Regions from separate parts of the Homo sapiens genome. Here all the other regions are reported to be linked to region 2. Evidence: microRNA targets listed by miRTarBase, many of them from high-throughput screens and not tested one by one. Region 2 holds a microRNA gene; each other region holds the end of a gene's coding sequence.

What was found. The annotated mature microRNA hsa-miR-3175 reads CGGGGAGAGAACGCAGUGACGU and lies in region 2 at 4,388-4,409, opposite strand. An mRNA with a match to its seed (bases 2 to 7 or 8) in the 3' UTR can be bound and repressed. Matches are read on the target gene's strand: a 7mer-m8 pairs with bases 2 to 8, a 7mer-A1 pairs with bases 2 to 7 and ends in A, and an 8mer does both.
Region 1: the mRNA of C5orf24 is a reported target of hsa-miR-3175. Seed matches in the 3' UTR shown: 7mer-m8 at 3,413-3,419 and 7mer-m8 at 3,972-3,978.
Region 3: miRTarBase lists DCAKD as a target of hsa-miR-3175. Seed matches in the 3' UTR shown: 7mer-A1 at 1,001-1,007 and 8mer at 1,541-1,548.
Region 4: the mRNA of ADGRB2 is a reported target of hsa-miR-3175. Seed matches in the 3' UTR shown: 7mer-m8 at 1,214-1,220.

What each region holds. Positions count from the first base shown.
Region 1 is chr5:134,854,512-134,861,630 of GRCh38, forward strand. C5orf24 (chromosome 5 open reading frame 24) reads left to right here. Exons shown (of 2, transcript NM_001135586.1): 2 at 387-5,224. The coding sequence starts at 390. The coding sequence ends at 956. Among named protein-coding and RNA genes, the nearest start is that of C5orf24, 12 kb to the left of the region's middle.
Region 2 is chr15:92,901,698-92,908,816 of GRCh38, reverse strand. MIR3175 (microRNA 3175) reads right to left here and starts at 4,418; the gene lies at 4,342-4,418. The region is part of intron 2 of CHD2 (chromodomain helicase DNA binding protein 2); the gene reads right to left. RefSeq lists enhancers at 4,125-4,364, 4,645-4,824, 3,686-4,885 and a silencer at 4,525-4,574.
Region 3 is chr17:45,018,227-45,025,344 of GRCh38, reverse strand. It overlaps DCAKD (dephospho-CoA kinase domain containing), which reads left to right. Exons shown (of 5, transcript NM_001288655.2): 5 at 621-2,001. The coding sequence ends at 912. Among named protein-coding and RNA genes, the nearest start is that of DCAKD, 30 kb to the left of the region's middle. RefSeq lists silencers at 2,964-3,313, 5,794-5,973, 5,830-6,079 and an enhancer at 6,590-6,719.
Region 4 is chr1:31,721,446-31,728,544 of GRCh38, reverse strand. It overlaps ADGRB2 (adhesion G protein-coupled receptor B2), which reads left to right. Exons shown (of 33, transcript NM_001364857.2): 31 at 265-363; 32 at 464-520; 33 at 940-1,428. The coding sequence ends at 1,125. Among named protein-coding and RNA genes, the nearest start is that of COL16A1, 21 kb to the right of the region's middle. RefSeq lists a silencer at 4,490-4,690 and an enhancer at 4,236-4,737.

The DNA of each region.
Region 1 (7,119 bases), not on the chromosome of region 2:
AAAGAATTGTGTTAATAAGAGTTCTTGGCTTTACTATTATTCTTTTGAGGTTTAGTAATCTAGAAGAGAAAAGCCCACAGAATAGAACATTTGTTTTTGACTTACACACTTTTCTGGTTCCTAATTGGAGAGCATTATAGCTATGAAATCAGTATTATAATAGAGTTATCTTGTATGATGTTTGTCCCATGATTAAATTGAGAAGAAGTGTCCTTGAATCTGCTGATGTGTGTTTGTTTATAAGTGGTCTGGAGTCCTGCCTGTTAGCCTAATTTTATGTAGCCTGCATAGTTGTTGGAAGACAGACTGTTTTCTCACTGAATGCTGCATACAGGTATGTATTTGTGTGTGTGTATTTATATATATTTGTCTTTTATTTTTGGTAGAAAATGATGCATCCTGTTGCCAGCAGTAATCCAGCTTTCTGTGGGCCTGGCAAGCCTTCCTGCCTCAATGAAGATGCCATGAGAGCTGCTGATCAGTTTGACATATATTCCTCCCAGCAAAGCAAATACAGCCACACAGTCAACCACAAACCAATGGTTTGTCAGAGGCAAGACCCATTAAATGAAACACACTTGCAGACTACAAGTGGCAGAAGCATAGAAATAAAAGATGAACTAAAGAAAAAGAAGAATCTCAACCGATCTGGTAAGCGTGGCCGGCCTTCGGGAACCACCAAATCAGCAGGATACCGGACCAGCACAGGCAGACCCCTGGGAACCACCAAAGCAGCTGGATTTAAGACAAGTCCAGGCAGACCTTTGGGGACAACTAAAGCTGCGGGATACAAAGTCAGCCCAGGCAGACCTCCAGGTAGCATTAAAGCTCTATCCCGTCTTGCCGATCTTGGTTATGGCTGTGGCACTGCTGCTTTTCCTTACCCTATGATGCATGGCAGAGCAGTTCATGGGGTAGAGGAAACTAGCAGTGAAGTCAAACCACCCAATGAGTGAATGAGGCAGGAAAAGAGGGCCAGGTTTAGAAGGAAGATTGTGAATAATCCCAAAGCTTCTTGGTTTTATTTTGATATACATAATTTTATGGCCTGGGCTTTCCAAATTTGTTTTCCTGTTTGGTTTTTTTCCTGCTTTTGCTCAAAAACTGCCATATGCTGACAGATGCACTCAGGGCATGAGCAGCGGCATTGTATTTGTACATAGGTTCAAGTGTAACACCTAACTAAATCATTTTTCCTTTTCCTTTAGAGTTATGGTCATGTCTCATGTTTCATTACTACTTTGGGGCTGTTCTAAATAGATGCTTTATGTGATAAACAACTGAAACCATTATACCTATTAGTTTGTGAAGTAAGCCTACAGTATAATAAAGACACTAACGTATTTTTAACTGATGGAGCAAAAAAGCAAACTAATGAATCAGGATTACTTGAGGTAATGGCTGTGTGAGTTTTTGTAACATTTATTTTCACAAGATGGGACACATATTTGTATGCTTTGGCATTTACATCCACTTCAAATGTTAAAAAACTTATTTTTAATGTTTTAGGTTTAAGCAGCTTGTAATTTATTGATCTACATGGCATTAATTGATTTAACCATTATACCTGAAATAATTCTTCAGTGTTTGCCTTTGAGCAGTGATAGGTTGTGTATTTTTTAATTGCCTAAGAGCATATATACCAAACACTACAAACAATTCATATTTACAGAAAATTTAAACTATTTTATAAAAACTGCACATTACATTTTTGGTGAAATATAGTGCATTCTGAGGATAGCATATTTCATATAATAGAAAAAGAAGCATTCTCTAGGTTTGCATGTAGCTATAGTCACTATATTTTGCCTTTCATATAGAAAGTTTTAAAGTATTATGTTTAAAAACATTTATTGGCTGGGTGTGGTGGCTCACACCCAGCACTTTGGGAGGCCGAGGCAGGCGGATCACTTGAGGTCAGCAGTTCAAGACTAGCCTGGCCAACATGGTGAAACCCCATCTCTACTAAAAATATAAAAATTAGCCAGGCGTGGTGGCGGGCGCCTGTAATCCAAGCTACTGGGGAGGCTGAGGCAGGAGAATTGCTTAAATCCAGGAGGCGGAGGTTGCAGTGAGCCAAGATTGTGCCACTGCACTCCAGCCTGGGTGACAGAGTAAGACTCCGTCTCAAATAAATAAATAAATAAATAAATAAATAAATAAATAAATAAAACCATTTATTGATGTTGCTCATTTATTTGGAACGTTTTTAGTTTTTCTCAGAAATTGTCCCATTGCATTAGCACTTACTGTGTTTTCAGGTTGATATCTACCAAAGGACACAAATTGAATGGTAGACTGTAAAACTGGTATAAACAGAATGCAGTTTCCCGACCATCAGAACCCAAATATTAAGAAGCATATAGGAATCCATCTATGCATGAAACATGTAAAAAATATGTTGGTTAGTTTAATTAAAAATCTTATTGTGGGTCCAGTGAGACCATCTCATCCAAAAGATTTTTTTTCCCCCAATGATGTTTGCTTTAGAAGCAAGATAGAAAGGAAAAAAAGTATTAGGTAGATATGTATAGTAGGGACAGAGGGAAATCTTTCTTCTTTCCTTTCTGAAAGTAATACTTCTTGTTACACATTTTATTTATTGAGTTTGTTCTAAATAAAATATTATAAACTTCAGACTTGAAAAAATTCCACTTAACTTTAAAGTTACAATGTTTGTATTTGGGATTTTAAATGCCTTTGAGATTAAAATGTAGAATTGCAGGACCCAAAAACTTTTAAAATAATTAAAATTTTAAAAGAGCACATGTTGTGTTTTTTGGGCTTGCTATTAATGCAAACTCTGATTGCAAATGGATGTCATGTTTCATACCTTTTTTATCAGGAAAAAAGCAGCAAGCCTTCAGGTGTTCCAGTGATGCCTGACACAATTGAGCTGGACTTTATGCTGCTCTTTACAGTAAGAGGTGTTGCATTGTATGTGGGGACTATGTGCACTGGCGTCTAAGACAGTGACCTCAACAATATTAGCTTTGCACAAACCATAGAGAACGATGTTGGATGGTTACATAATCAGTTATAACATTCTGGCAGCTAAATTGCTACAAGAGCTTTTTCTTGCAAAAGCTTAAAATACAAGATTTTTAATAATTTACTCAGAACAGTATAACTTCTGACACACACAAATGCTTGCCTCTTTATTCATATGTTCGTTACCTACTCTGTACATGTATCTGTCATTTAGCTGTTTCTCAAGATGATGTTCAGCAGTTGGCTGCTTAGAAATCTTTTTCAAGCCAGTTTCTAAAGACATTTGTTTAATGTTCTACCATAGAATAATGCACACCATTGTCAAAGATTTGATTATTGTGTTTTATAGTAAGTCCATTTGACATTTATTTCCCTTTCAGTTTATTTTCCTTCCTTATTTTGTTATACATACCCTTCCCTTTCTCCCCTGCCTTTCGTACATTCATTCCTCTTCCTCTACCCTCCAGCACATCTACTTACTGGTGCTGTGCTGTGTGTCAGAAGATAAAACAGGTGTATTATTGTATAATGAATTTTGTATACATGTTTATGAAATGGTGAGATCAACTAAAGGAGGCATGTTCATAACAGTGTTTATTATCAGCAGCTATGTCCCAGGAAAAAAAAATGGGAGGGGCAAATGGCTACAGTTGTAAATGGATAACATCATTTAGAAAGCCGAATTTACTGTTCATCTGAGCGGTTACCTGGAGTATTATATCTATGCACTGGTGAGCATCTCCTGATTCCACTTACTTTTCTCCCTGTGAACAGTTTACCGGTGCCATGCTGAAGAGAAAGACATCTAAGTGATAACATGAATGAAGTCTTAAAATTTAAAGTATTTTTACTGCTATATAAACTAAAGACTACATTGTGCATATTTTGTTAACACTGTCTCTTGTTATGATAAACACTGAAATAGCATGTTAAACAGTTGCCTATACTTTAATATAATCAGTTGGGGAAAACTGGCCTTTTCTCCCCCACTGTATGATTGTTTCTTGAAAGGTAAATTGCTAATTTTATACAGTGTAATTCTGTTCTTCACAAAATAGGTTTCATTATTCTATATTTAAACTGTTGGTCAGAAAATGATCTGCAATTCAAGTAAGTCTGCATTACTTTTTTCTTTAAAAAGTACTTTAACATGCCTTATTTATTATATTAGCAAATGAGCTAATAACAGATGAAATTTTCATTTTTTGACAGATATAACCTTGCATAAGTAGTATTTAGGGTGATTTTGATACTATCTTTAGAGTTTTGCATTGGATATTAAAAAATATATTGGCACAATGTATTGGAAGAAAATGAGTAGTATCTGGTTTAATTTTTAATATTTAGGGACATTTTAAAAAATCAATGTTTTAATTAGACTAAAAATTCTTTATATTTTTTATTTACTTTTTAAAGAAACATCTGTCAAAGTAATATTGATTCCAAACTGATGTTTGTGTGAATTTACATGTCTATTTTCATGAACTAAGAATAGAGTTTCTTTGAGTTGAGGAGAAAAAAATATATATGTGGGTCCATTTATTAGGTTAAAGTTGACCCATTCAGTGTAAAAATAACCATAGTGTGTGAGCTAAAGAAAAAAAAAAGTAAATTTCTCCTTTATATTCTAAGAAGCTTTAAAAGAACAATTCAGGGGTTATTGATAACTGCTACTCTGTCGGTCATTGTCTCTATATGCAGTAAAATTTTATGGTCCCTTTATAGGAATATAAAGAATTCAAAACAGTTTTTCAAAAGATTTTTTTCCTTGGACATAAAAAATTTTGATGCTATTCTATTTTTGTTTTTATTACAGCTTAACTGTATGCTGTTAAACTCTAGGATGTATCTGAATCTTTCCTTTTTTCCCCCCTCCTCCAAATATATAAATCTGTGCTCTCACATGTAATGTATTTAATTTTTGGAAAATTTAATGCTATATAGTAAATCAAGTGTGTGATTTAAAGTAATCAGATCACTTTGATTCTTTTAAGTTTTCAGAATTTCTTTTTTCCACAGGTAATTTTGGAGAAAATAATTACCAATTAACTGATAATAAGCACGCTGTCCTCTGCTGTAAAAAGTCTGAATAGATACTGTGTATGTTTTTATGTCCATGAACTTGAGCTACTCGTGTGCAATTATGTGTATGGGAATGGAGTAGTGTTCATGATTTGTATCTACATCATCATATGGATGTATATTTATTAATAAAGTCATTACTTTAAAACCAGCTATGTTTACTATGTTTTTTAGTGTGGTACTTTTCAAGTACTTAAGTGGTAAATGGTAAACCTTTTTCATGACTGTAGATCTTGTGTTTTTCTTAGAATTTTGCTTTTTTTTTTTTCTTTTTTAAGACAGGGTCTCACTCTGTCACCCAGGCTGGAGTTCGGTGGCGTGATCATAGCTCACAGCAGCCTTAACCTTCTCGGCTCAAGCAGTCCTCCTACCTTCCCACCTCAGCCTCCCGAGTAGTTGGGACTACAGGTACCTGCCACCATGCCCAGCTAATTTTTTATTTTTTTATTTTTATTTTTATTTTTTTTGGAGACAGAGTCTCACTCTGTCTCCTAGGCTGGAGTGCAGTGGCGCGATCTCCGCTCACTGCAAACTCCGCCTCCCAGGTTCACGCCATTCTCCTGCCTCAGCCTCCTGAGTAGCCTGGATTACAGGCGCCCGCCACCACGCCTTAATTTTTTAATTTTTGTAGAGATGGGGTACCCTATGTTGCCCAGGCTGGTCTCAAACTCCTGGTCTCTGGCCAGGCGTGGTGGCTCACCCTTGTAATCGCAGCACTTTGGGAGGCCAAGGCGGGTGGATCACGAGGTCAGGAGTTTGAGACCAGCCTGGCCAAGATGGTGAAACCCCATCTCTACTAAAAATACAAAAATTAGCTGAGCGTGGTGGCAGTTGCCTGTAATCCCAGCTACTTGGGAGGCTAAGGCACAGAATTGGTTGAACCCGGGAAGCAGAGGTTGCAGCAAGCCGAGATCATGCCACCGCACTCCAGCCTGCACGACAAACAAACTTAAAAAAAGATAAATCAGAATACAGCTAGAAATAAAAAAAGATGCATCAGACAAATAGTTCTACTAAAAGGCTAATATTTAAATTTAAACATTATTGATCCTTTTGGTTTTTTTTAAAAATTAGATATTAAACATGGCTCATTTTTAAATTTATTTTGAGATACAGTCTCTGTCACCCAGGCCAAAGAACAGTGGCACAATCATAGCTCACTGCAGCCTTGAACTTCTGGGCTCAAGTGATCCTCCCACCTCAGTCTCCAAAGTAGCTGGGACTACACCCAGCTTATTTTTTTTTTTAAGTTTTTTTTGTAGAGACAGGGTTTTGCTATGTTGCCCAGGCTGGACTTGAACTCTTGGCCTAAGACAATCGTCCTGCCTCAGCCTCCCATAGTGCTAGGATTACAGAAGCAACAGCTCATTTTGTTATTTATTTTTTGAGACGGGGTCTTGCTCTGTCACCCAGGCTGAAGTGCAATGGCAGGACCTTAGGTCACTGCAACCTCCAAATCCTGGGCTCAAACGATCCTCCCAACTCAGCCTCCTAAGTAGCTGGGACTACAGTCATGTGCTACCATGCCTGGCTAGTTTGTATTTTTTTTTTTTTTAATCGTGTGCATGTGTATTTAAATAGAGATGTGGCCTCACTAAGTTGCCCACACCTGTCTTGAACTCCTGGGTTCTTAGGTATCCTCCTGACTCGGTCCCCCGAAGGCCTGGGATTACAGGCGTGAGCCACTACACCTACCCTGCCTAGATTGTTAAAAGTCCTTTCACTCATAAATGGTCATGTGCTATTGATTAGGTGGGCTATTCCTGAAAAGATATACACCATCATAGTACGGACAGTTTGCTTGGGCTCACAGGATTACTTATTGTTTATTAAATATATTTTAGTCCAATTTTTTCTAGTTCTTCATAGAGTTTGTAATATTTAATTGTCCATTGTAATTATATTTCCCCATATTCTCAAGCAGATCATTTGAAAAAGCTAACCAATTGAAGATCTGTAGGTTGAAGAGAAGGCAGTCTCCATTTATCACCTAGAATTTAATTTTAGACAGGGTCTCACTCTGTTGCCTAGGCTGGAGTACAGTGG
Region 2 (7,119 bases):
ATGCCTAGAACTGGATCTGCCATGACATTTAATATAGAAACATCCTCTTCCATCAAGCCTACAATTCCCCGTCAGCATCCTATCCCACTTTTGCTTCCAGAGGTCCTAACTCAAGCAGCTATTAAGACTAAAAAGGGAATTTAAAAATGGGACAGGCAATGGAAAGACCAAGGGTTAAAGTACACGAAGTGCTCCATCAGAAGATTTGAAAACACACGGAGATACTGCAAACATACAGAAACACATGCAAATTTGAAACACAGAGAGCTTTTAAAAATTAACTAGATCCTAGGGGCAGGGATGGACACTGGTATTTTTAGAAGCTCTCCACAGTCTGAAATGGGAATAAAAAGTAGAACCCATCTGACCTATAACCCAAAAAAGACAGGAAATAGAGGAAGTAGAGGAAACCCAAAACACACAAATCTTAAGACTATAGTTTAAGCAGACTTGCATGTTCGGCATTATGCTAAGACAAATATATAGTCCTATGGTTTAGACTGAACACTGAAAGCAAGCTACAGCCAATTAGACATTGGTTGTAAATATTACTGCTGTTACATTTATATCCATGGAGCAGTGCACCACAGTATTCAGTATTCATTCTCTAACAGCTTGAGAGGGGAAATGAGACAGAGGATAAACCAGGGTAATAATTATCAGCTTGGGGGAGTGGGGGTGGGTAGTTATCTACTCAGACTAACTGGCAAAAGCCGGGCTGTGATTCACACAAGAAGCTGTTGTAGTCCAGGAAGAGTCATATGCTCTCTCAAAAGGCTGGCTCTTCTCAAAAAAAAAAAAAAAAAAAAAAAATTCTAAGAGAGGATGAACTGTAAAACGCACCCAAGCTGACTAAATGAGGACTTGCCTCCTAAAATCATTCTCACAAATCTCTCCTGTAACTGGCCTAAACAAACTCTCCTGGTAGGCCAAGACAACCAGCGAGTTCCTCAGGGCCAACCTAGCTCCTGAAGAAGAACTTAGGATATGAAGGAGGGGTGCAAGAAAGTAAGATGAAACAAACAGTAAGAATAAAATAACCTTACTAAAAGCTTACATTTATTGAGCACTTTTAATGTGATGGGCTCTTTGCTAAGCATTTTATGGGCACTATATTATTTAATCTTCATGACCCAATGAAGATGACCATTATCTACATTTTTAAAATGAGAAAATTACAAGTCCAATCATAAGTGCTTCTTCACTGGCCTAAACTGGGAACAAAAATTTTCAGGACTAAAGTAAAAGCTGAACTCATACCTAGCTCTTGCCAGGCACAGAGGTAACAGTTAAGCATACACAAGTGACAAAATGACTCATCAGAATTAAATCCAAAGTATAAAATCAAGACTATCTCTACAATCCTGCCTTAGCCGGATGCTTCTGAAACATTCTCTCCTTCAAGATCAGTGATCACATTTTCCCCAAACTACAGGGACTCAGTAATGAGAACTGAAATACTTTTCAGTATGATATCCAGTCCAGAACATGTTGAAATACCAAACAAGAAGACCCATAACCAAACATATTAACAATAAAATGCTAAATTATGTAGCATGAATGGCTACCACATATCTATGTCCTCCATCATTTATTTCAAAAAGAAAAGCCTTGTCCCTCACTTCATAATCAGGGCTCAAATATATTCAGTATATAGGAGCTTTTTTTAAAAAATGTCTCTCCCCCTAGACTTGCTTTATCAATTAAAGATTCCATTGATTACAGAAAAGGGTCATAAGACAAATGTGAGTAATGTGTTCCAGCATTGTGCTGAATTACTGATCACAAAATAAAAATACAATCCAGCCTGGACATTGGATGACTAAGTTTTGTTACTCAGGCTTTATACTGATAACCCTAAAGTTCCAAAACAAGTTGTGAATGGCAGCTTTGCAAAGGTATACATGTGAACTCAACGCTTAGTCAAGCTGAAGTGCAGGAGGGAGTTACTCAGCTGTGACACACCCAGTGTAACCAAGCCACAAAGTTACTTTCACCTGTACACAAAATACTCTTAGAGGAATTTTTTTTTAAGTTTCTTTGTTCAAGTGACACCATATCAAGAAAGCCAAGTTCTTCAAGGAAGCAAAGTTCTAAGGTTACCAAGAAGCAGCTAAAAACTAAAGGATCTTAAAAAAAAAAAAAAAAAAAAGATGGCTCATAGCAAGAAAAAATTTAATGGCTGACACAGAGCAGTCACTCAATTTTTATACCAGAAACAAACTTAGTGTATCAAATTTTATGGGAGAAATGATAGGAGTTTGGAAATACCAGGTGGTCTCAGGAGGTCTCTCATAACTGTCAGTTGTTTTATTTGGGGGTAAGGGAGAGTAAACTAATGATAAAATCTGTGAGTTTTAGTTAAAATTCAAATAAACTTCCAGATTCACTCCTCAAGCAATAACTTGCTACAACTGTCACAACCAAAAGTCTTTATCAAAAATATTATTTGCCCACCTTCCTCTGCTGACTTAATCTTTACAAAGATACTAACTCCCTAACGGCCAAATACTAGTTGGAAAGTGCATATTTTAAACGGCAAGGATACAGAGAGAGAGAGAGAAAGAGAGAGAAATCGATCAACACTCTTTTCTTGCTGCTTGATGCTATTCCCCACATCAAAGGGAAAAAAAGTAGAAGGCTCAACAAACATACCTAAGAACACTGGTTCTATAAAAAACTTAATTGGCTGCAAGATTGTCAACAGTTAATAGGTAAATTGTTATATCATGGTATGCATTTTAACTCATAATGGTATTTAGGTTAAAATATCTTAAATAACAGAATAGTTCATATCCTCTTCAAAAATAATTAACTGCAATGTTGACTACTTTGACCCCAGTTTTAGGAATTGAAAGGTATTCAGCAAATACTATTAACACAACTAATTAGAATTCAGTCTCTACACAAAAAGGGAGGTGAGATTATTACTTTCGTTCTTGTGGCAGGTATACTTTAAGTTGGAAGCTACAGTTAAACGTTCATCAAGTTCTATAAACACTTAATTCTCTGTTAGCATTTTATACGCAATATACATTTGAGCATATAATTTTAAAATCAGGTACAAATTATTTGATGAACACTTCTCTGTAACAGAAAAAGCAATTTCAGCTAGTTTTCACAAACTATCCAAATAATTCTTCCCAAAGAACCTAGATTATGAGAACCTACAAAACTCACTATCATAGTGAATTCTAACTTTCACAGACTGTATTCAGAAACTTGACATACGCCCAAGCAAATATCACCTGCACTGAAGGGTCAACATCTCCTTTGAAGTAACACACTTTACTAAAATAACTCTAAACTATGGCTAACTACAGGACAGCCTACTCCAACTGCTAAAAAAACTCTAGTATGGCAGGAAAAAAACTTTGTCCACAGTAGATAAATCCACTGAATTTCTTGCTTGCTTAAATTCAGTATGTGTAATTTAATTATTAAGACATCGTTGCTGAACGATGAAGTTTTAACCAGAAATCCTTGTAAAGGTTTCCAAACAAGGCAAATCAGTGAGCATAAACCCAACCGTTTACCGGGACTCAGAATTCCCGAAATGGAGGCCTAGGGAAGATAATTGCGAAGATTTGGCCAAGTGACCCCACTATCAGCCAAGCTGTCAGTCACCCTGCATTAGCAAGTGCTATTAACACTTAAAAGAGTAGTTTTCTGACATTTACTTACATAGTAATGGTTGCCTAACGCTGTATTCTGCCACTTTTTAATGTTATTGAACGTGAAATTTTCTATTTTCTACTAAACTATCCCACTGTGAATCTTAAATATATAGTACTTAGCACATACTGACCTGAGTTTTTCTCCATCAAATGCCAACTGAGAAAATGTACGGTACCAAGTAAAAACGCATGGGGACAAGTTCAAATAATCTTCCCTTTGTTTATGAGCCATGTATTAAACAGCTGTTAACACCCGTCAAGAGGTTTTCACTAAAATAAAAGTATCCGCCTCTGACACTCAAACGTTTTGGTCAATTGTAACAAAATTAAACCCACTCATCTCTTCACACTGAACGGGGGCGGGGAGAAGGGACGCTAAGGTATGAAAAGGGAAAATGTAAAACTGGGCAAATTTTCTATTTTAAGATTTCCAAATAGTGCCTTTAAAATTTATAAATAGTGCCTGCACTTTTTCTCCAAAAGCAGCCGCTTCTCAAAGAGGATAAACCATTCCCGGAAATGGGCAAAAGAACACACTACAGGGTGCGGACCGCTACAGGCAAGGGCGGACAAGACTGCCAGGAGCAAACGCGTCCAGGAAAGAAGCCGCCCACCGGAAAGTCCCAACTAGAGTTCCCTTCCTTTTCCCCTCGGCGTGCGGCTCCCTGGGTAGGGGGAGGAGAAAGCGCCCGACATGCGCACGCGGCCAGACGTCACTGCGTTCTCTCCCCGCCCCCCAGGGGAGCCGTCTGACGTCACGGGGCGGAGGCTGCCGAAGGCGCCGCCGTTGACCCTGCTGTTACCAGGCGCGCGCACAGCCAATCAGCACCCCGCGCCGGCGCCGGCCGGCCTTTGAACTCGGCACGGCAACTTCCTGCTGTTTGGCGAGTACACAGTGCAATGCAGTATGTCTGTCAGCGCTGCGGCACAAAGGAACAGCCATTTTGTGACTGAGCTGGACCTGCATCAAGATGCCAGGGGCTCAAAGAGCTGCTGCGTGCCCTATCGAACTGCCTTTTATGTCGGCACCAGAGTTCCCCAGAAGAGCAGAGAGGGGGAAGGAAATAGGCTTTGGTATTTCAGATTTCTATTAGTTTAGATTCAGTCTTCTCCAAAATCCCGTTTTTTAATGTATTATCAGCGTCATAAAATGGCTGCCAGTTAAACTGCCTGTTCTAGTACACAAGTAACTGCATTATGCCATTTCTAATCATCCCCAGCCTTTTAGAATATCTGGTAAAGCGCCCCTGAAAATTGTAGGATTTACCCGCACCTCAGGTTATAAAAATAAATCTGGCTCAAAGGCAGACGATTTGGAGATAAATTTAATAAACTCGTTCAATTCTTAAGATAAATTGCTAACGTGGTGCCGTGGAGAACACACTGAACTCTTTGTGTGCACACAGTCCCGTTTTCATTCTTTGATGTTACTTAAGTTATCCCCAAGCTGCAAATTATTCAGATAAAAAGTATGGTATACTTCTCGTATGTCCATCATTAGAACTTTGTTTTAAATACTTAGAAATTTTACAAATATCAATCAAATGTTTTTAAAATCGCGTTTTTTAAAGTTTTTAATTTTCAAAAATCGTGATAAAGTATAACAGACTTTAGCATTAACTTCAAATTAAAATACAAACTTATATAACCACTATTAACTACTGCACTATTTCCAAAAACAGGGTATTACCAGATTTACCTAAACTTGCACTCATTCTTTCCAGATACTAAAGTAATTCTCAGACCAAAGTTTACTTGACCTGCAAACTCATTTCCTCTTCTGTGGCTCAGGCTGCAAAGGTGATTTTCGTAGTATTCCCTAAACACTATACTTTGGGCAATAAAAACTCTGATGGCAGAAGGAACCAAGTACTAATTACAGGGACAGTTCAGCTCAGTAGAAGTAATATTAATCTACCACATTAAAACACCACTAACATTCTACAGCTGCACATTTTAAAAGGAAGTGATGTCATAATTATGTACATGTATTAAGATATGAAATTTAGGGTAACTAATTTAAAAGTAACTATCTTCTTTTCAAAGAGTCTTAAATATTTTTGGACATCCATCAGGTATATGATTCAAAGTATACTTGACAAACCAATTTAAAAGTACAGTCAGTACATGCTTCATGTACAGCTGTAACCTCCACTACCAGTAAGCAAATGCCTGACAACTTCCAGGTAGTTTTCCAGGTGAGAGTAAAAATACTGAAAGAATACCAACACTGCTCAATTTTTTAGAATTAGAAAGCACAGTCTGATCAATGATGTTAACCACAAACCTTGCATAAGAGAGCCAAAACCCATGTGAGACCTATGCAAATGATACACTCAAGGGAGCAACAATTTTAGTGCTGAATCTTTAATAATTTGCCAAATATATCTGGAGGTTCTCATTTCTTCAAATTGTCATTACTTTCCAGAAAAAAACAGCTTAGGATGAGTAAAAAACTTTTCTGTCCTCAATTTAATCTAGTAATTTACATGGGCAATTCAATTAAGACAGCACTACAAACTGGGTGACAACTCAATGCAAAAAAATTTGGTAACTTATTTTCTAAAGCAAGGCTCAATATGCTTTCAGTCAAATAAAATAAATAGAATTCAGCATATTAGTAACACATCATGTTCAAAACTTTCAAATTCACTAGCCTAATAGAAAAGTGTATTATTTATAAAAATTAGAAAAGTAAAAATTGGGAAGGAAAACCACATAATGAATCACATCCTTGTTAAACTGCATGATTTAAAATTTATAATATGAAAATGCATAAAGAACACATCAAAAAATGCATTCATATGTACTTTTAAAAATTAATATACAGAGGTCATACAACAAAAACATCTTAGAGGCTTTATTACTTCATCACTAACAAGGTACTCCAAGGAATGTGAAACAGATCATGATTTGCACAAACAGTACATTTTTAAGCTTCAGAAGATAAAGCATTCCAGACGACTCTGTCGAAATACATCAATAAATTTAAAGCAGCTACATCTAAATTGTGAGGATAAAATACATCTACCAACAGGAAATCAATGTCTTAAGCATACAAATGCAAACCTTAAAATAATTTAAATGTAAAATATACAACTGCAAATATTAATCACAGTAACAAACACAAAATAGAAGTATATATTAAGAGTATTCCAGGATTTCTGTTATTACAGATTTGATTTCATAAATGCAGGAACTCTAACCATCAAGTAAAGGTTTTGATAAATCACATCAAAATTTCCTAAAATGTCAAGTGTATCAAAAGAAATATAAAGTCACATAAAAATATAAACTGAGAGGCATCAGTCAAAGGGTCCTTTAAGTGATTTTGTTTTTAAATGTACATTTTTTCATTCATATAACTTTCTGATATGTCTATTTACTATAATTTACTACTACAAGGCTTCTCTATGGCCCTCAGTTACAAGTTTAGATATCC
Region 3 (7,118 bases), not on the chromosome of region 2:
CTGTCCCACATCATCAGTGGCATTAAGCACAAGAGATACCATCTTAGCACAATCCTTTTACTCTAAATGTTCAGGGGAGGGGTATAGCAGCAAGGAGAGGGGGTCTCTGTGATGGCCCAAGGAGGTATTTTTGATACTGAAGACCCAGGCCCCCAGGGGAACTGCAGGAAGCGTCTAGCTCATAGGCATAGGCCTTTCAGTAAAGGTCACCCATCCAGGGATCCAGGATGTAGCTGGTTCCAGGTGATGAAATCTTCCCACCTTATGACTGGGGAATGTCAGGTCTAGTAGCAAAGCAAAGAGACCCCAGATGGCAAAAAAAAAAAAAAAAAAAAGAGCTGTGGCCAAAGTTCCCCCCTTGTTTGTATTAAGGGGCTTCCGTAGCCCATAGAGCTCTGGGTTCCTCACAGTGAGTGGAGTGGGGTGTGAGGCAGCCAGTGAGCTTCCAAGCCTCCCTCCCTGGCTGTGGGACCCTAAGTAGCCCAGAGCAGGGTAGGGTTGGAGGGAAGATCCAGTCCCCATGCTCTCTGTTTCAGGCTGGGCCTGGCAGGGCTGCCTATCCCTGTAACTTGGGGTGAGAGGGAGGCAGGACCTACAGTGCCCTTTTGCCCTATCCTTAGCGACCGGGACACACAGCTGGCACGGCTGATGCGGCGGAACAGCCTGAACCGCAAGGACGCAGAGGCCCGCATCAATGCCCAGCTGCCCCTGACAGACAAGGCCCGCATGGCCCGCCATGTCCTAGACAACTCGGGCGAGTGGAGTGTCACCAAACGCCAGGTCATCCTCTTGCACACTGAGCTGGAGCGCTCCCTGGAGTACCTGCCGCTGAGGTTTGGGGTCCTCACAGGGCTCGCTGCCATTGCCAGCCTCCTCTACCTGCTCACCCACTACCTTCTGCCTTACGCCTAGTGGGGCACTCAAGGCAGGGAGCCCCAGGCCTCCATCTATCTCCTTGGAGGCTGAAGCCAGGTAACACATCCTGTTTCCTCTCAGCCCCCTCCCCACACACACACACACACACACACACACACACACACACACACACACACACACACGGACTCTCCGAATCAGGGCTGGGCCTCTGTGCCAGGCCATCCCGTCTTTGGAGTGTATCCTATTTGAGATCAAGAAATAGCCTGCTGTCCTTCCCACCTTCCCTGAGCAGCACCTACAGAACAGCAACCGTGATGGTGTGTGAAAGCAACAGTCAGAGACTGCTATACATTTCTGTGGGTGGGGGTAGGGAATACTGGCTCTGTGGCCCTCCTCAGAGCTGGGAGGCCAAGGGTTCACTGGGCTTGAATCCTCTCTAAGCACCTACCCCATTGTGGCCTAAACCTCCTCAGTGGACCACGGGAAATCATGTTGGACCAAGGGTTTCCATGTTCAAACAGTCAACAAGGCCCTCCCCTAGGTTGAGATATTTTTTATACTGAAGGCCCAGGCCCCCCAGTATGGCTTGCTGCCAGCAAGCAGCAAGGATTCTCTCGTGGGTAACGCTGTAGCCAGGCAGGACCAGCCTCTTCTGGGAGACCCCTCTCCCCACGTAGGGTTTGTGTAGTGCTCCCACATCCTGCTTATTGCCTGCCACCCCTGCTTCTCGCCTGGACCTCTTGGTATTCCGTGTACACCATCCTTGCTGTTTCTTGCCTCTGTGCCTTCAACCTGCTGCTCCTGGCCTGGGATACCTTTTATTTTCTTTTATTTCTTCTTCCTTTTTTTTTTTTTTTTTTTTTTTAACCTACAACTAGCTCTCAGTTCAGGCACTGTCTAAAGCCCCAGGCTGGGTTAGGTGGTCTAGGATACCAACTCCCCCTCAACATTTTACCTTAATCCAACAGTACAGTAATTAGCCGAAACTTGCCTGGTTTTTCCTACTAGACTGTAAGCCCTCTAGGGACAGGGACAGTGTCTTATTCATCTCTGTGTTCTTAGTGCAGAGCCTGGCCCGCTGTTGGTGTTTAATAAAGTGTGTTGATCTGAAATGCCCCAGACCAACCAAGATTCCCAGACTTGGCTTCTTCCCACACTGGGCTGGAGTCCTCCCGGAGCTCAGGGGGAGGTGAGGGCCCCAGAAGGTGCACTTGCCATCAGGCTTCTCCCTGGGTCCCAGGAGGACTGCAGCCAGGCCCGAGGCACCTTTGTGGGAGGTGGGTAGAGGGCTGAGGCAGCGTCACACCTTCTTGCCCCGCCTCCCCATCTGCCTTCCCCAACCCAATTAGACCAGCGCAGACATAAGCCTTCCCTGCCAGGGCCTGCAGACTTGCTGATGTGTTGATCCTGCAGCCAGAAGCCTATTAAGGCTAGAAATGAGTGTGACGGATGCAAATGCTGTGGTGGCCATACTTAGTGCCCCCTTTCCCAGAGCCGCTTGTGCTGAGTCTAGCTCATTAACTTGCTGCAAACCCCTAAGGGGCAAAGAAGGGCCGGGTAAGGCAGTGGTGGGCTGCCAGGTGGGTGGCCAGGCAGGATGAGGGTGGCAGGAGCCTGCCACTTCCTCGGTTTGGTGCGATCCGCCAGGACGGAGAAAGGAGAGGGAAGGTATGGACCCCCACAGTGCCCTATCACCCCAATAATTGAGGAAATGGCACTTCCTAGTATCGGCAGCATGCCAGGCACTGCTGGATGTGTAAGACCCTATAGTTAACATAACACTGATTATTTCCATCCCAGGCTCAGAAAGATGGATTTGGTCCAGGTTGCAGAGCCAGGCTTCTGAACTCTCTCCTGTGCCCTGAGCCTCTTGTCAGGAGGAGCTGGAGCCTGGGGTTGGGCCTTGGGCTCGCATTCCGGCTCCGCTTGCCATGTGACCTCCTGCCTTTAGTTTCTACTCATACATCGTTAGGCTTCATAGTGGAGGACACTGAAAACCCTTAGCAAACTGTAAAGTTCCAGAGAATTAACCTTCCCTGACCCAGTGAGCTGGGTTTGAAGCAGGAATGTCAGAGCATGGCAGGTGTGGAGAAACCTCGAATTCAGCCCTGCCCTGCCCGGGCCTCGCCAGAGCTCCCTCTCCAGCTCCTCTTGCCTCCCTGCCCCAGGATCCCCTTCCCGGCCTTGGGGGTCCAAGGCGGCCTTAAAAGAAGGACTACTTTCTCCGAAGGGGACTTGAAGTTGAGGCCGCTCAGCAACTGCAGAGGTCGGGCCTCCGGGACCCAGGCCCGCGCCCGAGCCGGCGGCCTGCCGTTCGGCCGGCAGGTGGCAGCACCCTCCCGGGCTGGGCCGGGCCTCCGCGGCGGGCGCTCGCCGAGCGGCCTAATCTTCCTCCTCCCAGGCCGCGGGCGGCCTCAGACTCCTGCCGAGCAGCTGCCGCGGGAGCACGGGCCAGGTGGGCGCGGAGGCTCTGCCTGACCCTGAGCGCTAACTCAAAAGGTGCGTTGTTCGCCCACGTCCTCTGAGCCTGGGCTGCGGGCCCTGGGTGCCAAAGGGCGTGTCCCCTGCCCACCCACCGCGACGGCGACGGGACCCTGCAGCCTCCGCGTTCCGTTCCCTCACTTTGGGCCTTAGCACCCGGAGCGGAGCAATAAGACACCAGCGAGGGTGAAGACGCACACGCCTTCTGGGCGGGGGACGAAGGGCGCAGGCAGGCCTCTAAAACACCCCCACCCCCAGGCCCGACTGGCCCGAAGGTCATTCGCAGTTTCACAGTTTACAAAGCACGTTCCAGTTATCCCCTTGAAATCTCCCAGCTGTGTGAGGCAGACAGGTCCAGAATTTTACAGAGGCTCAGAGGTTGAGCCAAGGGGCCTAAGTAGCCAACAGGTATAACCACCAAGCTTCTTGACTCCCAGTACAGTGCTCCTCCGGCTATCTGCACTGCCCCCATTATACACTTTGGCTCTTTAGTAATTGACAACTCTTCTTCAAATGTTCATTCTCTCTCTCTCCTCATGGGGGGCAGGGCAGAGGCAGGGAAAGGTTTAGGACCTTCCATGATGAGCCTCCATGGCTAGAAATTGAATGGGAGCAGGATAGGCGCGCTGCTGAGCGCCCCTAGTTCTCACCAAGGCACTTTAGGTCAGAAGGAAACAGTCTCAGAGCAGGAGGGGGAATGCGATGGCAGTGATGACTTCAGGCCATGGGGTCATATAGGAGTGGGCAGGGAGACCCCCGGACATGGTGGGAGAGAAGGAGCAAAAGGAAGGAGGTGATGTGGTGCTATAGGTTGCTTTCCTGCTCCTTCCAGGAGAGACGTGGCTGGTGGTTCCTCATCCCACCTGCAGAGCTGAGGCTGCACCCAGCTGGGACCCAAACCGCCTCTCTTTGCTCCCCACCTTCCCCTCCGCTCCCAGTCACTTAGATTCCAATACAATTTCCAGCTAACCAGCATGTCGATAGAACAAGTCGGGCGGCCGGATTGCTGGCCAATTACAGGAAATCATTCTGCTCCACAGCTCAGCGCTCAGGAAGGGAGAGGGAGGGAGGGAATTCAAGGGAGCAGGCGCCCAGCTTACAGGCTGGGAACGGGCTTCAGGCAGAAGGCTGGGAGTGCTGCAGCCCCCCACCCCTGAGGGGTGGGGGGTGGGGGAGGCTCCTAGGGGCAGGCCAGCCCTAGGCTCATCCTCAGCCTCATGCGGAGCTCTGGATCCAACTTCTGTGTGATGGGGAGATTGGTGCCCCAAGCCACTAAGAGAGACAGAGCTGGGAGTTGAGTGTGGTTGAGGGTCCGGCAAGCGAGGCATCTTAGTGTCAAAAGGGATAGAAGCCGAGATAGCAGGACCACCCTCTCCCAGAGCCCTATGCACCAAGGAGTGGGCATCTGAGGGCCTGGAGGCTAGGGTCCACACAAGCAAGACCTGTGCTCTAACAGCCCGCTGTGGGCCACGGGGTACCTAGGAGGACAGGGGAAGGGGTCGACAGGGAGCGGGAAGGAAAGGGGCCACAGCCCACAGCTGAGTGAACTAGCAGCAGCCTCATCTGGTGAAGGAGTAAGTCTTCCACCCTGGAAGGTGGGGCACAGAAATGTGGGAAAGGCCAAGGGCCCCCTCCCTCACCTTCCTAGCTCCTCTGCCTCAGCTCCTGCCTCTGGCCCTCAAGAAAATTTCACTCAGATGAAAGGACCCCAGCTCCCCTCCTCTTTCCTTGGATCTGAATCTACCTCTGCCTTCTATGCCGACCTGGATGCCTCTTTGCCAGCCCCACCTCCTCCCATCACATCTCTCCCAGAACTGTTCCTGTGCCCCAGGCTGCCCTACCCGGCTGACCAGAGATGCTCTGCCTGTCGCACAGTGGTGAGCTCTTCTTCCCAGCCCTTCCCCTCTACCCTCAAAGGACTGGAAGATTCTTGAGGAAGAGAAACTTCCCTGTGGGCTAACTTCACCCAGTGAATGACTATTGTTGCTGTTTGTCTTGAACCCCAAAAAAGGCAACTGTGACCCAATGATCTCCTCCTCTGCTCCAAGCTGTGGCCACCTCCCAGGACCCCTCTCCAAACCCCCAGGATCTCACTACTCTTCTCCCAATTCCAAGCCCTCCCCTTCAGACCCCTCCAAGGTTGGGTCCTGGGATGGATTCACTGGCAGCTCTTTTGCCAACCCAAGAGTAAAGGGGTGGACAGACATGGAAGAGGAGACTGGCTTTGGAGCCCAGTGCACCCAGCACCCAGTGGCGCTCAGGAAAGACCTGAGTGATTGCACCGAACAACAAGGTCATCTTCAAAGTTTGTTTGGAGAGGTGCATAGGGAGAACAGGGTCAGCGCCCCGCGACGTCTCCTTCCCCGGGTTTTCTAGCCTAGTACACAGGCTCACACTCCGCGGTGGAGGTGTTGGGGTTGGCCCTGTGTGTGACCCCCGCTTGGCACACGGTGGCCACCCCTCCGCTCAGCTGAGCTGAGCTAAAGCCGCGGCTCCCGGGCTCCTAGCACCGCCTCCGCCATCCCACCCTCGGGCGCTGCCTCCCGCGGGCCGGGCGCCCGGTGCTCGGCGATCCGGAAGAGGGCGCCCGCCCGGCCCACGTCCGCCGTGTCCCCGCCCGGCGCGCCGCGCTCGCCAGCCCGCGGGCTCCGCGCCATCGATCGGGCCGCAGGGACCCGGGTGAGCCGCCTCCCCACCCCTCGCTTTTCGCTTTTAATTGAAGTTTGTTTGAGCAGAGCGCGGAGCGGGCAAAGGCAGAAACCAAATATTTAGTTGCTGCAAATTGGCACCTCCAGATCAATTACCCGGCCAGTGTCAGGGCCCTCGCCGCCCCCCGCGCCCCGCAGAATCTCAATGCCACGCTGCCCCCGCCCGGGCCGCCCGCGCCGCCCTCGCCGCCCTCGCCGCCCTCCTCCATTACACTGCACGTTTTTCATCAGCTCCAGCCAGACATCACCCGTGGCCGCGAGGGAACAGATTTTCAATGGGAAAAGTTCCCCGGGAGGGTCCTTGTTGCTGATTCCCGCCGCGCCCTGCGCTGTCTGGCCCCTGCCCCCACCTGGCTTGTCTGACGGAGACAGCAGATGGGTGGAGCGAGCTCAAAGCAAGGACTTGGGGTCAGGAAGACCAGGCCCCGTCATAGGAACTCCCCTTACCCGCTGGGTGACCTTGGGGAAGTTACTTATGCTCCCTGAGCCTCGGAGTCCCCCATAACATGGGGGCTCAACCTTCACCTTGTGGGGTCAACAGCATGGAGGGACAGCACCCTGCCCAGGGCTGGCACACAGTGACTTTCCACAGATATTAGTTCTCACCCTGCTAGGGGTTAAAACAGGCTCTAGAATGAAATGAGAGACAGTGAGTTCGAGGCGACTCAACCAAGCCACTGAAAAATACCAAAGGGAAAGCAGCAGACAGCCAGCATCCCCAGAGTCTCTGGCAGGGGCTGGACAGGCCCCAGGACCCTGGTCAAGCTCCATCAGGGAAAGTCCTGACCCCCAGCCCAAGTGCATCTGGGCACAACCAAAAGAGAAGCCGCTTTTCCAGTACCAGGGGTGGAGAATGAGAGAGCCATGATCCCAAGGCCACAGCCAGGCAAGGAGGCCGGAGGGATCTGAAAAAGGTCACCAAGGGCTCCTGACCCTTGCCAAGCTGAGTACCAGGAGGCCAGCCTTGTGGCAGGGGGGAATCAGGACAGCTGGGCTGTAGTTGAGGCTTTGCCTTCTCCTGGCTACATGTTGCTAGTCAAGTACTTAACTTCA
Region 4 (7,099 bases), not on the chromosome of region 2:
CTGGAGGGCTCACTCCTAAAAGTAGTCCAAGCTCTGTTGCAGAGCCTGACCCCAGGAGCCCAAGCCCGGGGGTTCCGTGGGATCTTCCCATGATTCCCTCCCTGCCCAAGCCCATAGCACCAACGTGAAGAGAGAACTAGGTCTTGTCCCAGAGGGGCTGGCAGCAGGGAGGGATGTGGGGGGCTTGGGGTGCTGAGTGCCCTGGGTAGGGGGGATCATGGTGCTGCCCCGGGGAGCGACCCTCTGATGCCCTGTGGCCCCTAGAAGGTGATGCACACCCGGAAACGGCATTCAGAACTCTACCACGAGCTCAACCAGAAGTTCCACACTTTCGACCGCTACCGCAGCCAGTCCACGGCCAAGGTGAGGGCTCCTCCCGTGGCTGCCCCTGCCCTGAAGCTCAGGGCCTGACCTGGTGCAGTGGCCCCTGGGGTTGGAGCCTGACCGGTGGCCCCCGTTGCAGAGGGAGAAGCGGTGGAGTGTGTCCTCGGGTGGGGCAGCCGAGCGGAGCGTGTGCACCGTGAGTCCCCCCGGGCTGGGTGGGGTGAGGTGGGCCTGAGGGACCCGTGCCCTCCCTGCCCTCCTGCCCCTCCCAGGCAACCCCAGCCTGTCTCACCAAGGGCCTCCCCCACGGCATGGGCAACAGTCTGGGGCCGCCTGGGGGTGGGGAAGGTGCTGCAGATGGCGAACAGGGGTGGAGGTCCTCCAGGATTGGGAGGGAGAGTGGTCAGCAGGAGACATGTCCTGGGGGCCACTGAGAACAGGGGTCAGGAGCCCCACCCTGGAACCAGGCAGGTCTGTATTTGAATTCTGCTTGACACCTGATTGCTCCATAACTTTGGGCATTACCAGCCCTCTCTGGGACTCCTCAGTTTGATCGTCTGTACAATGGGTAAGGATATTGGCCCATCTCCACGGCCCCTCCCGCTCCCTCCACAGGATAAGCCCAGCCCTGGGGAGCGCCCCAGCTTGTCCCAACATCGGCGCCATCAGAGCTGGAGCACCTTCAAATCTATGACACTGGGCTCGCTGCCCCCCAAGCCCCGAGAACGGCTGACTCTGCACCGGGCAGCAGCCTGGGAGCCCACAGAACCACCGGATGGTGACTTCCAGACAGAGGTGTGAGTGCCACGCTGGACTGCCCACTGCATATAAATATATATATCTCTCTATTTTCACACTCCACTTTGGAACTACCCAGGAGCCAGCGCCCTCTCCCCTCTCCCGAGGGCTGGGCAGGGAGGCGCCGTGGACTCAGCCAGGCTGGGGGAGCCGGACATGGCTTGGCCTGGGGTCCCAGGGCCCTTCCTTGTTTCTCAGAGGCCCCTCAGCCACTGGAACCCCATCTTCAGCCCAGCCTGTCCGTCCCTGTCCCGGGCTGGGGAGGGGGGAGGGGAACTTTGTTGGGAATAAACTTCACTCTGTGGATTTTGCTGCTGAGCTGTTTGCTTCCCTCAGGTAAAGGCCCAGCTCTGGGACCCCGACTTTGTTTCTGTCTCCTGGGTTGAACTCACTTGATCTCATCAGATGATGTGATGGGGTCAGTCCAGCCCTGCCTGGGAGGGGGCGGCCTAGGCTCTGACCCCATCTTTGTCCCTGACTCTCTGGGTGATTCATCCTTTCCCCGATCTGGGCTGTGGGAAGCAGATTGGGAGTGTGGGAGGGGACCTCTTATGGCTGGCTTTTCCTGGTGGCTGTGATGGTCGTGGCTGCCATTCACTGGGGCACAGAGGCCAGACTTCCTGGGCTAGAGCCAAGACAGAGCTTAGTGACCTTGGTTTCACATCTGTGAAATGGGGATGGTAACAGTGCCCACCTCACAGGGTTGTTACAGGGATGAAACAAATTCCTATTTGTAAAGTGTTCAGCAAATACCTGGGACAGGATAAGCTCTTGAAGGGTTAGCTGTGACCATGTGGCACCAGTCTCATGCAGTGCTCTAAGCTAGGAGCTTCACACACATATCCCCTGGCCCCTCACAACAACCCTGTTGGAAGGTTTTAGGTTGCCCATTTTGTGGATAGGAAAATGAGGCCAGAGATGGGCAGTGCCCGGCTCAAGGCCACAGTCAGAGGCAGAGCTGGGACTTCAAACCCACGCTTGATGGAGGTGGGGCTTCAGCTCAGCTTCCTGGAACTTGACCATGGCTGCAGGGGAGCCGCAGATGCTGGGTTGTGGTGGAGATGCAGGTGTTGGACCGGGCCAGGGCTGGGGTGGGGTGTGGGAGCCAGGCTGGCTTGGTGCCAGGGGCTGGAGGCTTGTACTGAGTTGCATTCATTACATGCCTGAGTGAGCGGATCCTTGCTCAGTTTTCAGGCCCCCAGAAAGAGGGGGCACAGGATTACATCTGGAAACATATTCTGGAGTCAGGCAGCAGCTGGAGCAGAGGCACGGTTAGCAGGGTCACAGGTCCTTCTTGCCTGGTCATTTAGCAACATGGGCACCTCTGGGCCCCTTCCCAGGGACTCGGAGACACAGACAGGTCCCTGGAGAGCTGAGGGAGGGTTAGGTGCTGCAGCAGCCTGGGTGGGAGTGACAGAAGTGACTGGCTGCTGGGGTAGGGGGTATCACAGATAATGGCCTGCCCAGGGGTGCTGGAGGAGGGGCGGAGGCCTCTTCAGAGTTTTGCAGGCCTTGATGGCACAGGCTTGCTCTGGTCTCATTCCAATCCTGCCTGCTGTGAGACCTGGTCAGAGGAGCCGTGCGGGCAGAGTCCACTCAGGACTGTGCTTCTAGACCCTTGGAGCTCCTGCGACTCACTCCTCCGCCTCCCTCCCTTCGGGCAGCCCCAGCACTTAAGTGTACACAGAGTTCACTCAAGCACTACCTCATTTGATTCTTCAAGGTAGGTATTGTGACTGCCCCATTTTGGAGATGAGTAAATCGAGGCTTGGAGAGGGGACATGACTTTCCCAAGCTCCCACAGCTCAGCTTGTGACTGGGACTTGTGGCTGGGAGTGGCAGAATCCGATACCAGCCAGCTTAGGCACCTGGGAGCTTTGTTCACCCAGGAGCGCGCTGCCGCAAGGACAGCAGTGGGCAAGTGCGGCTGGCCTTCGTGATGGGACCCGGGATCAGGAGTGCCACCGCATGTTTCATCCTCTCCTGGCATTCTCTCGAATGTGTGTCGGCTTCATTCTTTAAGGCCTCTTCCCCCTGGGCCTGCCAGGCTTCCTCCTCCCAGCTCGATCACTCAGCATTGCCCCTAGAGGGGAAGAAACTTTCTCTCTTGAATTCCAATTAGAAAACCCCCAAGGAAGGAAGAGCTCTGGCTGGCCCCAGGAAGGAGGCTGGGGCACTGTGATTGGCAGTCCCATCAGGAACCATGGGGGAGAGGGAGAGGGAGGAGAGGGAGCAGGTCTCTGAGAAAGGGGGGCCTGTTCCTAAAAGGGGGTTTGCACAAACAAAGCCCGACCATGTACCAGCAGATCCTACTCCACATTCCTTCCTCTGACCATCACCTAAAGGCCCTCTTAATGCCTTGTCCTGTGCTCGCACCTCCCTCCTTCCTGGTCTTAGGCTCCGCTGGTCACCACCTCTGGGGCCCTCTGGGGCTGAGGTGTGATGTGCACGTCCCTGCCCTCCTGTCCATTCTTGCTTTGCATCTGGTTGAAGAGGAAGTTTAGTATTTACCTTGTTGATTCTGCTCAAACACAAACCACAGCTACCTGCAGAGGCCTCTGCTGGCTTTGAGACCAGCCACTTAGCTTTCCTGGGGTGGGGGCTTTGTCCCTCCCTTGCCCTCAGTCCCTGCTCCCCCAGGCACTGACTTGCTGCGTGACCTTGGACAGGCCACTGGACCCTGTCTGACATGGGTTTCCCTATCTGTAAAATGAGTTGGCTCGATCTCCCTTCCATTTGAGCTAATATCTAACAACCTGTCATTTCTTTCCTGGACTCAAATTTCTCACATCATTGCCCTCATTTTCTCTGCCTCCAGTCTCCAGCCCTTCATCCACATGGCCCAAGTGATCTTTCCAAAATGCAGATCTGGCCAGGCCACTGCTCAGATGCCTTCTGTGGATCCTGGAATTAGCCTAGAGTTCAAGGCCCTTGGTGATGTGGCCCTTGCCTCCCTCCTCTGGCCCATCTCTCTGACCTCCATGCCTGTGCATGCACCACTCCTTCTGCCTGAAACTCCCTCCTCCTCACAGAGGGGAAACTCTCCTTCAGCCTTCCAGACCCAGCCCAAGTAGCCCCCTGTGTGATGCTGTCCCTGAACTCCCTGGCCCAGCAGTCAGCACTCGCTGGGCCCCCACAGGCCTTGGCATGCACTGTCACTACTGCACTGATCACACAGAACTGCTGTCATCTGTGTTGGCCTTGCTGTGGTTTGTGCACTCAGAGGCCCACATGAAGCAGGCATCAGTGAATCTTTAGCGGGTGAAGGGTGGAATACACAAATCTCCCTGAACATTGATTTCCTCATCTGCAAAATTGGGATAATGACAACTCCTACCCAGTCTTCCTCACTGGATATCCGGAGCATGACTTAAGATGATTCATGGGAAGCATTTTATAGGTGTTAATCTACTCCTCCCACAGTTATTCCTTCCTCAACCCCAAGTGGGAAGCCAGCCCTGGCTGCTGTCCAGGGTGCTGAAAGGGACTTGTCTTCACCCAAAGGATGAGGAGACAAGACTGAGAGGCCCGCCCGCACAAGCTCAGCTGCAGCCTTTTCTTGCTTTCCAGACTGGCAGGGTCAAGGATGAGCAGACCATCCCTACCTTCATGAGAACAGACCCTGGGAGATGTCTAATAAAAATACAATGTAAACGACATATGTAATTTAGAATTTTCTAGTAACCATTCTTTAAAAGTTTGAAAAGGTGAAATTCATTTTAATAATATATCTCATTCAATATATTAAAAAACGATCATTTCAACATATAATCAATATAAAAAATGACTGAGATATTTAACATTCTTTTTTTATACGGAGTCTTGGAAATCTCGTGTGTGTTTTATACATACAGTGCTACAGTGCATCTCAAGTCAGTCTCACCACCTTCTGACTGCTCAGTACTCCCGTGAGGCTACCATGTCGGACAGCACAGCTCTAGGCAGAACAAAGGCAGTGACCTTGAGCAAGTGAACTCAGTGCCCTCTGTGAAAAGGAGGTACTTCCGCACAGCCTGCCTCATGGGGCCATGGAGAGGGCTTGAGGAGGTGATGGAGGGAAAGTTGCCAGCACAGTGCCCGCACAAGGGAGGTCCAAAGCCAGGGTTCCTGGGCTCCACATATCCTGGGGATACTGGTGGGTAGGGAGGAGGTGTTGGGGAAGTAGGGGAAGGTCCTGAGGAGACCTGTGGACTGGTATCAGGCCTCCCTCAGCAGCACTAGGGGAAGGGGTCACCCTTACCCTCACCCTTACCCTTACCCCTGCAGCCCTAGACTCTGGGAGAAGGGAAGCAAGTTGAGGCTAGACTGGAACAGACACGTTAAAACTTAATTGGGCTTAAATCACTTCCATTAGGCACCAATTAAAAGGAAATTAGGTGGCCTGAGGGAGGACCTGGGTGCGGGATGCTGCTGACTTCTGCTTCTCAGGACTCATTTCCCTTCAGGCTTCTTCATGCCCACCCTGGCACCTCATGGGGTCCCCCAGTTGGGGCTTTTCTAATCCAGTCCCCAGTACCCATCATATTCCTCCCTCCACTCCTCCAAGGCCACTGACTCTGGGAAGACTTCCACCCTCTCAGGCCCTCAAAACACATGCTAAGTGTCTAAGGCAGAGGAGACTCCACTGAGGGTTTTGGCCTTTAAGGAGAGTGGGAAGCTAAGGAAGAGTGTTGAGCAGAGTACTGGCATGATCAGATTTCTATATCAACACGATTTCTCTTGAGTGGATGGAAAATGGATTGGTGGGGGCAGGGACACTGAAGAGTGAGGGTGGAGAGAGAGACCAGCAAGGAGATGATCTGCATGAAGGAGACTTTAGAGGGTGCTATGGAGGAGGAATGGAGTTTCTATATATGTAGTGGGTAGAATTGTCAGCACTCAGCTCCTGGTGTGGATTGGGTATCAGAGAGGAGCCAAGGATGACACCTGGGCTTCTGTCTTACACACCTGGATGGATGACCGTGTCATTGGCATAGAGGTACAGGAAGAGGACCAGCTTTGGGGGAGACAGTCATTAATTTGGCCTTGGGCATTGTCTTAGTCCATTTTGTGCTGCTATAACAATACCTGAGACTGGGTCATTTATAAAGAACAGAGATTCATTCATTGCAGTTCTGGAGGCTGGGAAGTCCAAGGTTGTGGGGCTGTCATCTGGCAAGGTCTTTTTTGCTGCATCATCTTATGGCAGAAGGCAGAAGGGTGAGAGAGAGAGCAAGAGATTGAATTCAAAGACTCAAGCTCTTTTATAATCAGTGTTAATCCATTCATGAGGGCGGTGCCCTCATGATCTAAACACACACCCCCCATTGACCCCATCTCCCAACACTGTTGCACTGGGGATTAAGTTTCCAACACATGCTTTTTGGGGGACACATTCAAACCATAGCAGGCATGTCAACTTTGAGATGGTCAAGGGGAGATGTCAAGTGGAAAGTAGGTAGTTGAACACACAGGGCTGGAACTCAGAATGAGGGGCTGGGCTGGAGTCATTACTATGGGAGGAACCAGCACTGAGGTGGGTTGTAGAGTAGGGTGGGAGGTGAATAAATCAAGGGACTAGAGACAGTTCTTAAAGTGGAGCTTTGAAAAGAGGGAGACTCCCTTTGTTCAGGACAGGTGAAAAAAAAGAGAAAAGAGGGAGAGAAAGCTCAGGGCTTACTGTAGTCTCTGAAGGTGAGTTAGCTGGAGAGGATGATGGGAGATTTCCATGAACAGAGAGGCTGTCCCTACCTCCTCTCCAAGATCCTACATAATGATCAGAAATAACCAGCCCTACCGCCTTGGGAGGCCGGGTCCTGAGACCCAGTAATGGTTATCATCACAGAGATTGATTCTGCTCATTTGTTGCACTTCAGGTTAGCCACAGTTCCTGGAGGTGGGAATGGGGTTGGGGGGACACTCAACAAGGCCTGGACTCCAAGACCTTCGGGACGGATGGGACTCTGGACTCCATGGGGAAGGTGGAGAAGCAGGCACG